Linked DNA regions of Homo sapiens: region 1 is linked to region 2. The links come from fine-mapping of genetic effects on gene expression. Tissue or cell type: tibial artery. Region 2 holds a variant in brackets; the other region holds the start of a gene. All regions are shown on one strand. Distances are from middle to middle.

Evidence for each region. PIP is the estimated chance that this variant, and not a neighbour inherited with it, causes the effect.
Region 1: EPN2 starts here. The variant in region 2 is fine-mapped to the expression of EPN2 in tibial artery (GTEx, PIP above 0.99).

What each region holds. Positions count from the first base shown.
Region 1 is chr17:19,234,007-19,239,756 of GRCh38, forward strand. It overlaps EPN2 (epsin 2), which reads left to right and starts at 3,360. Exons shown (of 11, transcript NM_014964.5): 1 at 3,360-3,525. RefSeq lists a silencer at 3,268-3,737.
Region 2 is chr17:19,298,896-19,304,645 of GRCh38, forward strand. The region is part of intron 4 of EPN2 (epsin 2); the gene reads left to right. EPN2-AS1 (EPN2 antisense RNA 1) reads right to left here. Exons shown (of 3, transcript NR_048576.1): 2 at 4,920-5,043. Among named protein-coding and RNA genes, the nearest start is that of EPN2-AS1, 4.5 kb to the right of the region's middle. RefSeq lists an enhancer at 5,301-5,500. The variant T/C (reference allele first, on the strand shown) is at 2,354.

The DNA of each region.
Region 1 (5,750 bases), 65 kb before region 2:
ACCCATCCAGTGCATTTACAGTTTCCAAAGCATTTCCTCCTCTGCCTTTTCACCTGAGCCAGAATGCAATCCTAGGGAGTGGGAGGGGTTATTATTCCCACTTCACAGATGGGGAAACTGAGGTCCAGGGAGGGGCAGTGACGTCATGGTCAAGCAGCAAGTCGGTGGACAAGAAATTAGGTGTTTCTGGATTGCCAACACAAGTTTCTTTTTGTGGGACAAATAGTTTTGAATATAGAGTTCAAGCCTTTGGTGAAGATCCCGGGGAGCCTGTTCTGCACCTGTGCTAAGTGATTCTTTTCATTCAGCATGCAGTCTGTCCCTGTCTGCTGCCTGCCAGTCTTTCCCCCAAAGTCCCTTCCTGCTTGAAACCCTCCTTCCCTAACCCCAGAGACACCCCTGGCCTGCACTGCCAGCTCTTTCTTCTGAAATACACCTCTCCAACCGGCCCCCATCAGTCTGCTCCATTATCCACCTGGAACCAACCTCCAAACCTCTGCAAGGGCAGATGAGAGTGTCTCCTCCAGCCCTGTTTTCCATGGACTGCTTTGGGCACGGATGAAATTGTTCAGCTTATCCTGCAAGTTCCTCTGCAAGACTGCTTATGTGCTCTAGACTCATAGAACCTGGAATTGAATCCTAGCCCTGCCACATGCTGCCTCAGTTTCCGCATCTAAAATAGGAATAGGGCTGCTGACGTCAAGGGATCATCATGAGGATGAATTGAGAGAGGAATGCCAGGGGGCTGATACGCTTCAAGGAGGGGGTCCAGGAAAGAGAAATGACTTTGAGGAATGCAAGAATGTCCCCTCTGACCTTGCACGTGGCGGTCTTCCGGCCTCAGGACACCCTCCTCCACTTCCCAAGCCTGGGCTAATCTGGTATTCTCCAACTCACTTCCTGTCCTGTAGGTTAGCTCATCATCTCATTATCTGTATCCAGTTCTCTTTCCAGGCTTGCATATTATCTGTGCGGCTACACACACTTGCTAGGTGGGTAGTGAAGGGAGTATTAGGCTCTGCATATGGAAAAGTGGGCCTGGGTGGCCAAGCCCCAGCATATCTCCAAACCTCAATTTCTTGTCTGTAAAATGTGAACAGCAAGAATGTGCACCTTGCTGGGCACGGTGGCTCACACCTGTAATCCCAACACTTTGGGAGGCTGAGGCGGGAGGATCACGAGGTCAGGAGTTCGAGACCAGCCTGGCCAACATGGTGAAACCCTGTCTCTACTAAAAATACAAAAATTAGCCAGGTGTGGGGGTGCGGGCCTGTAATCCCAGCCACGTGGGAGGCTGAGGCAGGAGAATCACTTGAACCTGGGAGATGGAGGTTGCAGTGAGCTGAGATTGTGCCATTGCATTTCAGCCTGGGCAATAGAGTGAGACTCCGTCTCAAAACAAATAAATAAAAAAAGAATGTGCACTTGTGGAATTGTGGTAAGGTTTTAGACCAGCACTGGTCAGCATGGTAGCATCTAGCCACATATGGCTATTTACATTTAAATTAATAAAAGTTTAATGAAGTTTAAAAAATTCAGCCCCTCAGTCTCACTAGCCACATTTCAAGTGCTCGCTGGCCTCCTGTGACTCGTAGCTATCCTACGGACAGCACGCAGAAAGAACATTTCCATCGTGGAGGGAAATTCTGCTGAACAGTGCTGATTTAGAAGCATCACGCCCGTGCTGTGCATCAGCTCTGTGTTATAACTCATCTGACATTGTAAACTCAGGGCAGAAGCATGATTGCAGTGTAAAGTTCTGCTTTCCTTGGAGATGGGGTAAAGAGGTGAGGCTCACAAGGAATGTTGGACTGGTTGAGGGCATTCTCTGGGATGAGGGTGGACCAAGTTCAAAACGGGGAGCTCCGGCTTCTGCTGCAAGGCAGGCACATAGGGCATAATTCCCTCTGCTGGTGGAGAAGGGGCACCAAGCAGTGGGAAGGGTGGTTAACTGGAGAGTGTTTCTAGCATCTAGAGCTACCAGTGTTTGACTTTTCAAAGGAAAAGTGGCTATGTGGTTTTGCAAACGTGTTACAAGCTCTCTCCATTTTTATCGTATTTATTGTATCACTAGCTAGACTAATAAAGAAAAAAGAGAAGATACAAGTAAACATAATCAGAAAGGGCAAAGAGGACATTACCACCGACCCCATACAAACACAAAAAAGCCCTCAAAAACTATTATGAACACGTCTATGCACACACACTAAAAAACTTACAATAAATAGATGAATTCCTGGAAAGATACAACCTTTTTTTTTTTTGCCAGAGAATGGAATTCCAGATCCTGGGTTGTTAGAACCTTAAGGGATACTTTCATCCCCTGGTTCCTGTACAGGGAGGAGGAATCTGAGGCTCAGAGAAGTACAGTGACTTGTTTAAGGTCCCTCAGTGAGTTAGGGCAGAGGAAGACTTCTGGCCACAGCTTCCCTGAAGCCAAGGCTAGGCAGAGTGTTGATGTCACCCAGGCAACAGGGATGGTGCCCTCTGCCCACCTAGCAAGCCCTGACTCATGCTCCGCGCCCCTGCTGTGAGAAGTCTCTGCTGACTCCCACCCTGATTGGAGCAGGTTAGTCAGCTTTGAGGTGCAGCCTCCAGTTCTGGCCCCTCCAGTTCCGGGACTCTCATTCGAGGCATTTGGGGCTGTCTCATTTCTGTGCCCAGCACAGGGCTTGGCACAGAGGAGGTGCTTTGTGGGTGCCCGCCAGTCAAGGGTTTCCGTTTTCGTGCCATGTAGGTAACCCCTTGCCATTCGTGCCCTTAGGTAACCCCTTGAGCAGCCTAAAGAAGCCTAGAGACTTCTCCGTTTTTGAGTATATTTTATTGACGTGAAATACACGCACGGAAAAGCGCACAAATCCAAAGTGTACTTCCGCGCATCTTCATAAAGTGAACACACTTGTAGCCTAAGAACCCAACCCTACCAGCGCCCGGCAGGCCCTGGCCCCCTTCCAGTCTCTCCTACTGAACAAGGTTTTTGAGTGAAACCGGCAGGCCGGAGCGTGAGTTTCTGCTTGACGGGGCGGGGTCTGCGCGTGCTGCCCGGCCGTGAGTGTGGGGGGGCCGTGAGTGTGTACGGGGTGGAGTGGCCTGAAGGGGATTAGAGTGCGCGCGTTCGGGTATTAATTTGCCAGGGTTTGTGTGGCGCTCGGGATTGGGGGTTTTTTGGGGGCTCGGGCGTCGACTGTGGGGCGCTGCGGAAGGGTGGGTCGTCCGCGTGGGGTCCTGGAGCGCAGGAGGCGGAGGGGAAGCCGCGCAGGGGCCACTAGGGAGGGGCTCTGGCGGGGTCGCAGGGGCGTGGTCTGCGGGCGTGGGGGCGGGACCTCGGGGCCTCGGGGGCGGGGCCTGAGGGCGCGCGCACGCGTCCGGCGCGCCCCCTCCCGGCCGCCATGTTGGCTGGTGTGTGGGTGTCAAACTGAGCCAGACGCGGCGGTGGCGGCGGCTCCGCGGGCTACGGTCGCTCCCGCCTCTCGAGCGCTGCCGGTGGCCGCAGCGGCGCACCCACGCCGGCCCGGAGGAGCAGAGGTGAGCCACAGCCCGTGGGGCTCCAAGGCCAGAGCGAGTCCCCGGGGCGAGGACCCTCCCCCTCTCCAGGGCGCGGACGCCCCCAGAGCACAGGCTCCCCTACCTCACCAGCCCCGCCAGGGCATGCGCCCCTGCCGCCCCGCTGGTCCCTACGCCAGGCTCTGGGGGATCCCCTTCTTTCCAACCAGGCCCCGCCCCACGGACTGGAGCATGGCCCCCTTCCCATCTGGATCCAGCTTTCCGCTGCAAGGATCTCCCCCCTTACCCGTCCCTATCACCGAGCATCTCCTTTTATGTCCCCAGAGTCCAGGGCGCCCCTTACTCCTACCTCGGATCCTGGAGCCCCGTTCATCTTGGAACAACCCCGCCCCCTCCCCAGAGCACGTTCCTCCTCTCCCCGAGCCCGGCGCCCCTTCCTCCTGAGCCCAGCCTGGTCTCCCGCCAGCCCCCGTGCAGAGCCCGGTCCGGGCGCCCTCCGGGAATCGGGGGAGGGGTCCTTATCTCTGTCCGGGATCCCGCCCGTCTCACCTTTCCTGGGGGCTGTAGCAGGGCCCCCTTCCGTCCTTGGGGACCAGGCTCCCCACTCCCCAGCCCCCACTCCCACGGAACAGCGGGGACGGGGGCGGAAGAGCCAGGCTCCAGCTGCCTTTTGTTCCGCGTGGGATGGCAGAGACCCACCCGGCCCGGCGGTCCTGCTCGGCTGATCCGGGTGGGTGAATGGGTGCGTGGGGTCTGGCCTCTTCCAGGAGAGACTTCCTCTCTCTCCCTGTGGGGCGGCTCCCCTAGAGCCGAGAGCCGAGCGCGTTGGGAGGCTGGCCTTTGCTAGAGGAGTCGGTGCCAACAGGTTTTTGTTTGCGACCTGAAGTTTGCCCAGTGGCTTTCCCTGGGGCAGCTTGAGCTCCCTGTGAATCCCCCCGCCGGAGCTTGTGGAAGGCCGTTTCTCCGCCCAAGGAGTCCGTCTGGGCGACTCCTTCACAGTTGTGCTTCCCTGGGGACGTATCTAAAATCTGTGCTTTAAGAGCGGAGAGGGCTTAACCATCATTAGGGTTCAGATGAGGGAAACTGAGGCCCAGAACTGCAGTAATTTGCCCAAGGTCACGCAGTGATACTGTGTCAGTGCAGAACTAGAAGCTAGGTCTCCAGGCTCTGTTTACCACATTTAATAACTTTTTTATCTTTTAGGGAGATGTTCAGGACCCTACCTTCCCCTTTATTTTTAATATTTATGCAAGAAAGTGGGCAGGAAAATATGAGAAGTAATGAGTTATTCCTTTTCACCTCCAGAAAATATCCTGTGAAAGAAGGGATTGGAACAGGGTGTTAAAATGATGGGAAAAGGTGAATTTTAAGAATCCAAGCTTCCTCTCATTATGTAATATAACGAAGATTTGGCAGAAAACGTGCCTCTTGTAGCTCTAGATACAGAATTTTAGGTGCTGACAAAATCTTATGCTGAATCTGGCACAGCAGTGATTGAGTTAGCATTGATAATTAAGTTTTCATCTGTATTTAAATGAACATCAAAAGGGACTACAATTTGCTTCTGAATGGTACTTGTTCGGTGCTTGTTTTTGGGACAAGTGATTGTGTTGGGGAAGCGCACCTAAACTTTTAAATTTTTTATTTATTTATTTTTTTGAGACGGAGTCTCTGTCACCCAGGCTAGAGTGCAGTGGCACGATCTCGGCTCACCGAAACCTCCGCCTCCTGGGTTCAAGCGATTCTCCTGCCTCAGCCTCCGGAGTAGCTGGGATTACAGGCGCACGCCATCCACCACGCCCGGCTAATCTTTGTATTTTTAGTAGAGACGGGATTTCGCCACGTTGGCCAGGCTGGTCTCGAACTCCTGACCTCATGTGATCCGCCCACCTCGGCCTCCCAAAGTGCTGGGATTACAGGCGTGAGCCAACACTCCCGGCCTAAATCTTTTATTTATCTGTATTTTTACTTTTACATTTTAAAAGCTTATTTATTTCCCTGGTTTTAAAATTGGGCTAGTCATCTTTACCAGTCTCACTGGGCTATTCTTTTGTAAGCAGGGAATGAGATACTGGTTATTAAAGATTTTGGTAAAGTGTAAGTTACTGTAAGGCATGATTCAGGACTGCGTCCCACAAGTCCCCGGACCAGGAGCCAGTTCGGATTGTCTTGTGGGATGTACCAAGTTTCCCTGGTTTACAGAGGCTTTTTGCCTCTCTGAAGCCTGAGCTGGCCAGATGGAGAGC
Region 2 (5,750 bases):
CAGTGTAAATAATGCTGTGGTAAACTTCTTTGAACAGAAAGCTTGTTTTTTTCTTTTTTTAAGGATTCTTTGGATTATTTCTTCAATGTGGAATTCCCAGAAGTGAGATTAGTGGGAAAAGTGTATGAACATTCTGTTTCTTGAAGCATGACAAATGTTTTCCAAACAGACTGTTTCCAAACAAATGCTTTCCCCCCAGCAGTGAAGGAGAGTGCTCAATTGGGAGCCCCTGAGCCCACAGCAGGTGCTATAATTTTGTAATCGATTATTTCCAATTGAATAGATGAAAATTACTATCAGAATACTAATTTTAAAAATGAGTTTCCTGTTTATAAGTATTACTCTAAGAAATTGTTGCAGGCATTTAACTTCTTTGAAGTTTATGATTGAATTAAAAAAGAGATAAATGATTATCTTTGTTGAAGTGCCCGCTCACCTCAGCTGGCACTGCCTGGGCTTCAGAACCCCTCCTCCCACCCTGGCTTACGCCTGGAGAGCTGCGGGTGGCTCAGGGTGAGGCTGCAGGTCCTCTTTTCCTTACTGCTGGTCCCCAGCCATGATGAGACCCCTGCCCCAGCACTCTACCTAGAGAATGACAGGCTGTAGCTTTGTTACTTTCACTATGGACAGAAGCAGCAGGAAGCTCAGGGACTCCTGAGGTAAATGACAGTGAGAAAAAGCTGCTTAGTGTTTTGGCTAAGTCCTTCCTTTCCCACCCAACAAGCTGGTGCTCTTACTGTAGGAGAGAGTTTAATAACAGCCCGAAGAGAATGGCACAACTTGCTTTTTTCTGACTGAGGATGGGATTTGACTCATGCAGACAAATGAATGGACTGCCTTTTGTCTCTGCTTTACCCTCCTGCCTCTTTCACCAGCCCTGCATTGGGGCCATAACGTGGTCATTGTTGGGGCTCTCCCTTTTTTCACCTGGTATTTCAGCTTCCTCCTCTGTAAACTGAGGCAGCGGTACCAGTGTTGCAGAGGGGTAGTGGAGAAGTTAGAGCCATTATTTGTTTTCACCAGAAACTAAACTTGACCATTATCTGATGGGTGTTTGAGCACCTACTTTGTGCCAGAAGTAAAGCTGACGTGGCCCCTGCTTTCCGCCCACTTGGGCAGATGGCCGGCTGGAAGCAGTTGAACGGATTAGAACATGCAGCTACAGGTGATCAGGGCTGCAGCCTAGGTGCCACCTAGCTGCCCCATGGTTCCGTGGTGGGCAGGTCTATGCAAATCTACCCCCAATGTCCGGAGAAGCGGAGGGGCCAAGGAAGGAGGCTGACAAATCCAGTTTCTTAGAAAGAAACAGGGACTTAGGAGCAGAAGCCATGTTTCTCTCAGGAAGTGGTGAGACAAGGTGTCAGATCCCACGCCATTAGCCCCCAGAGCCAGGGCTTATATGCCATAGGGAAGGAGTGGTTCAGAAAGAATGTGTAGGATATTTGAAGTATGATAACATTAAGGTAGTTTGACCTAAAGATAGGATTTAAGGTAAGTATGTGCTCTTACATAAAAACAATAAACTGTAAATCTTTTTTTTTTTTTTTTTTTGGAGACAGAGTCGCTCTTGTTGCCCAAGCTGGAGTGCAGTGGTGCAATCTCGGCTCACTGCAGCCTCCGCCTCCTGGGTTCAGGCGATTCTCCTGCCTCAGCCTCCCAAGTAGCTGGGATTACAGGCGCCTGTCACCACGCCTGGCTAATTTTGTATTTTTAGTAGAGACGGGGTTTCTCCATGTTGGTCAGGCTGGTCTCGAACTCCTGACCTCAGGTGATCCATCCGCCTTGGCCTCCCAAAGTGCTGGGATTACAGGCATGAGCCACCGGCACCCGGCAAACTGTCAATCTTGGAGGCCTTCCTGGAACTGGGATTAATCAGAAGCCAGCATGGTGAATTAGCCTCCAAGATGGAGCTGCTTTGGCCTCCACATCCACCAAGTGCTCCCTGTGCGCCAAGGCCAGCTCCAGGTATCAAGGTGTTAAGTAACAAAACGGATGGACCCCCTGCCCTGTGGAGCTCCCAGTCTGATGAGAGACTGGCCTGATAACACAGCCAGGGGAGGCGCAGTGAGAAGGTGGCCTTAGAGCTGATACTTAGGGATGAGGATGCGGTTCTCCTTCCCATTCGAGGACCACGAGCAGCATACACAGTGTGAGGGAGCAGCGGGCAAGCAAAGGCTCGAGGCAGGAAGGAGCCTGCGTGGCAGGTGCTGGGGGAGGATGGGAAGCGAGCAGGGCCCAGTGTTACTTGGCTAGCTGCTGTGTCACCCCAGTCTCTGCCTCCATGGTCCCATGGCAGTCTCCCCTGGTGTGTCTGTGTTTCTATCTCTTCTAAGGACACTAGTTCTATTGACTC[T/C]AGGGCCCATCTTGCTCCAGTATGACCTCATCTTCACTAATTATATCTTCACTAATTACATCTGCAGCTACCCTGTTTACAAATAAGGTCATGTTCTTCATCCTACTTTACGGGGGACCCAGTTCTGCCCATAACCCCTGGTCAGAAGAAGGCACTGTAAGTGCTGAGTCCACACCATGTGGCAGCATGACACACTAGCTGATTCAGGAACCAGGTGTCATACATAGGATCCCAATTAAATGTGTCCAGACTCTGGCCACTTCTCATCCCCTTCATAGCTACTTTTCTGGCCCAAGTTCCCTAGACCAGTCAAGTGGCATCACTGCCCCACTTAAGACTCTCCAAAGCACCTCTGACGGCTTCTGAACCCCCACCACTCTTTGGTCATGTGCCCTTGGGTGCCTCTGCTGACACTAGCCTCAGAGCCTGTCCCCTGCTCTCAGAACAGAAGTGCCCCTGCCCTTTTGCCGTTCCTTCCAGGGCTCTGTGCCATCGCCTCCTGTCAGAGCATAGCTGAGCAAGCTCTCCTCTTCCCCACCCTGCCCTGCCCTGTCCCTCCTTTTTAGATTTGTTTATGGTCTCTCCTTACTAGAACACAAGCTCATGGGAACAGGGACTTTCCTCAGGCCTAGAGGAGGCCCTGCTTGGTGTGGGTGTGCGCATGTAACTGACTGAGGGTGCAAAGCCCCTTTAGGGTGCTAGGAGCAAGCGTGGGGCATAGGTCCTGAGTCTTGGCTCTGAGTTCTCATCCTGCCCCTGGGCGGCTGTGAGCCGCAGCCATTTACCCTCTCTGGGCCCCGGTGTCCTCATCAGTGGGAAGGGTTGGTAATGAAGAGCCAGACCTTCAGGGTCAGACTCCACCTGCCCCAGCTGGGTGGCCTTGGGACAGTCACTGCACCCCTAGGCCTCAGCCTGGACTGTAAGTGGGGCAGCACCCCCTTATGGATGGAGGGTTCCTCGAGAGACAGTGTTGCACAGGCAGTGGGTGATTTTCACATCGCTTCTTGTTCGTTCCCCACAACAACCCTGGGAGACGGTTTCCCGTCCCCATTCTGCAGATGAGAAAACAGGCACTGAGAAGGTAATCACCTAGGCCAGGGGTCCCCAACCTCCGGGCCACAGACCCAAAGCTTCATCTGTATTTATAGCCGCTCCCCATCACTTGCATTACTGTCTGAGCTCCACCTCCTGTCAAATCAGCAGTGGCATTAGATTCTCATAGGAGCGCAAACCTTATTGTGAACTGCACATGTGAGGGATCTAGGTTGTATGCTCCTTATGAGAATCTAATGCCTGATGGTCAGTGTTTCCCATCACCCCCAGATGGAACTGTGTAGTTGCAAGGAAACAAGCTCAGGGCTCCCACTGATTCTATATTATGGTGAGTTGTAGAATTATTTCATTCTATATTACAATGTAATAATAATAGAAATAAAGTGCACAATAAATGTAATGTGCTTGAATCATCCTGAAACCATCCCCGACCCCACCCCTGGCCGTGGAAAAATTGTCTTCCACTAAACCAGTGTCTGGTGCCAGAAAGGTTGGGGACAGCTGACCTAGGCCAAGGTCATGCATTAAGAAGTGGCAGAGCCCAGATCTGAGCCCAGGCATGGACTTGAGGGCCCGTGCTCTCGTCTGCCACACTGGGCTGCTCTCTCAGGCTGATGACACTCGGCCTGGGGTCAGGCCCAGGTGGGAGAAGCACATAGGGCAGGGAGGAAGAGTTCCCTCTGGGCGAGTGTCAGAGACGGAAGCGCACTACAGGCATCCACACACAGAGTGTGCGTTCAGTCGCTTTCCTGGGTGGAAGCACAAGAAAATGTGAACAGCTGTTTCCTCTGGGGAGAGCAGTGGGGCAGGATGAGAGGAGTAGCTCTCACTTCCTTTTATGCTGAAATATTTAAGAATAAGTTGTGGGTATCCTCACATTACTCCCCTAAATGCTTCAGTACACATCTCTTCCTGGAGAGTCACACAGCCACTGTCACACACACAGTCACACACCTCACAAAATGGGAAATTAGCAGCATCATCTCACGCTGAGGTCATGGTCACATTTTTCAAGTTGTCTGAAAGTGTCTTGCTGCTGATCAGCCTAATGTGAGTCCACCCCAGGACCCCAGGCTGAGTCTGGCCATCCTGTCCCTGCAGTCTGTGTCATGGCAGCACGTTCTCCATTTCTCCGGGCCAGCCTTCCTTCGGGATGTCTGTCCCTGGCCTGGATCTGTCTGCTGCCTCTCACCATGCTCAGCCTGGCCCTCACCCTGAGCTTCCTGAGAACCGGAATCACGGCTAGAGTCTGGATTCTGTGCACATCAGCGTTTTGCTGGGACTGTCATAGATGGGGGTATGACGTCACCTGACAGGCAGCCCTCCCACCACCGATAGTGCCAGCGTTGGCCACAGCACAAAATAACTTTGTGGTTTGTCCCTGTGTTGTAAAGTCACATCCACCTTGTGGCTGGACAGTGATCTGGCTGTGGTCATGCTTCATTGCATTTTTCATTATACACCTTTTTGTCTTTTGCATCACATATATATATATGTTCCTGTTAAATATTACCTGGTGTAGTCCGGGTGGGGTGGCTCACGCCTGTAATCCCAGCAGTTTGGGAGGCCGAGGCAGGCAGATCACGAGGTTAGGAGTTCAAGACCAGCCTGGCCAACATAGTGAAATCCCGTCTCTCCTAAAAATACAAAAATTAGCTGGATGTGGTGGTGCGTGCCTGTAGTCCCAGCTACTCAGGAGGCTGAGGCAGGAGAATCGCTTGAACTCGGGAGGTGGAGGTTGAAGTGATCTGAGACCACTCCATTGCACTCCAGTCTAGGTGACAGAGTGAGACTCCGTCTCAAAAAATAAATAAATAAATAACCTGGTGTAATCTGAACTTAACTTTTTTATAATTTGCCTCGTTAGACTAAAAGCAGCCTTCCCAGCATCTCCCTGCGAGGAGGTAAAGTAAGGGCCTTGGAGGCTCTCCTGTGTTGAGAAGTGGCAGGAACGTCCTCAGTAGCCAAGGTCATTGCTGATTCAGGAAGTGGCCCCTGGAACCACAGGATGATGTCACCACATTGAGGAAGCGTTTCACTGCTGTTCAGTAACAAGGAAGGAACTTAGCTGAACTAGAGAACTGGCCACTGGACAGTGGACGCTGACCCTGTGCTCAGTGCTGGCTCCCTAGCCCCTCCCTCGAAGTAGGTCAGCCCAGCAGAAAGCAACCCCAGGCCTGTTCCTCGGAGGCCTGGGAAGGGCCACGCTTTCTGTGTGTGACGTGGAGGGTGGGGTGTCTGAAGGAGCTTAGCCCTCAGGTGGTCTGGTCCCCATGGATGGAGGAAAGAGCACCAGCTCAGGACAGGGCTGGAATCCACAGGGAAGAGCCAACTGCATCCCAGC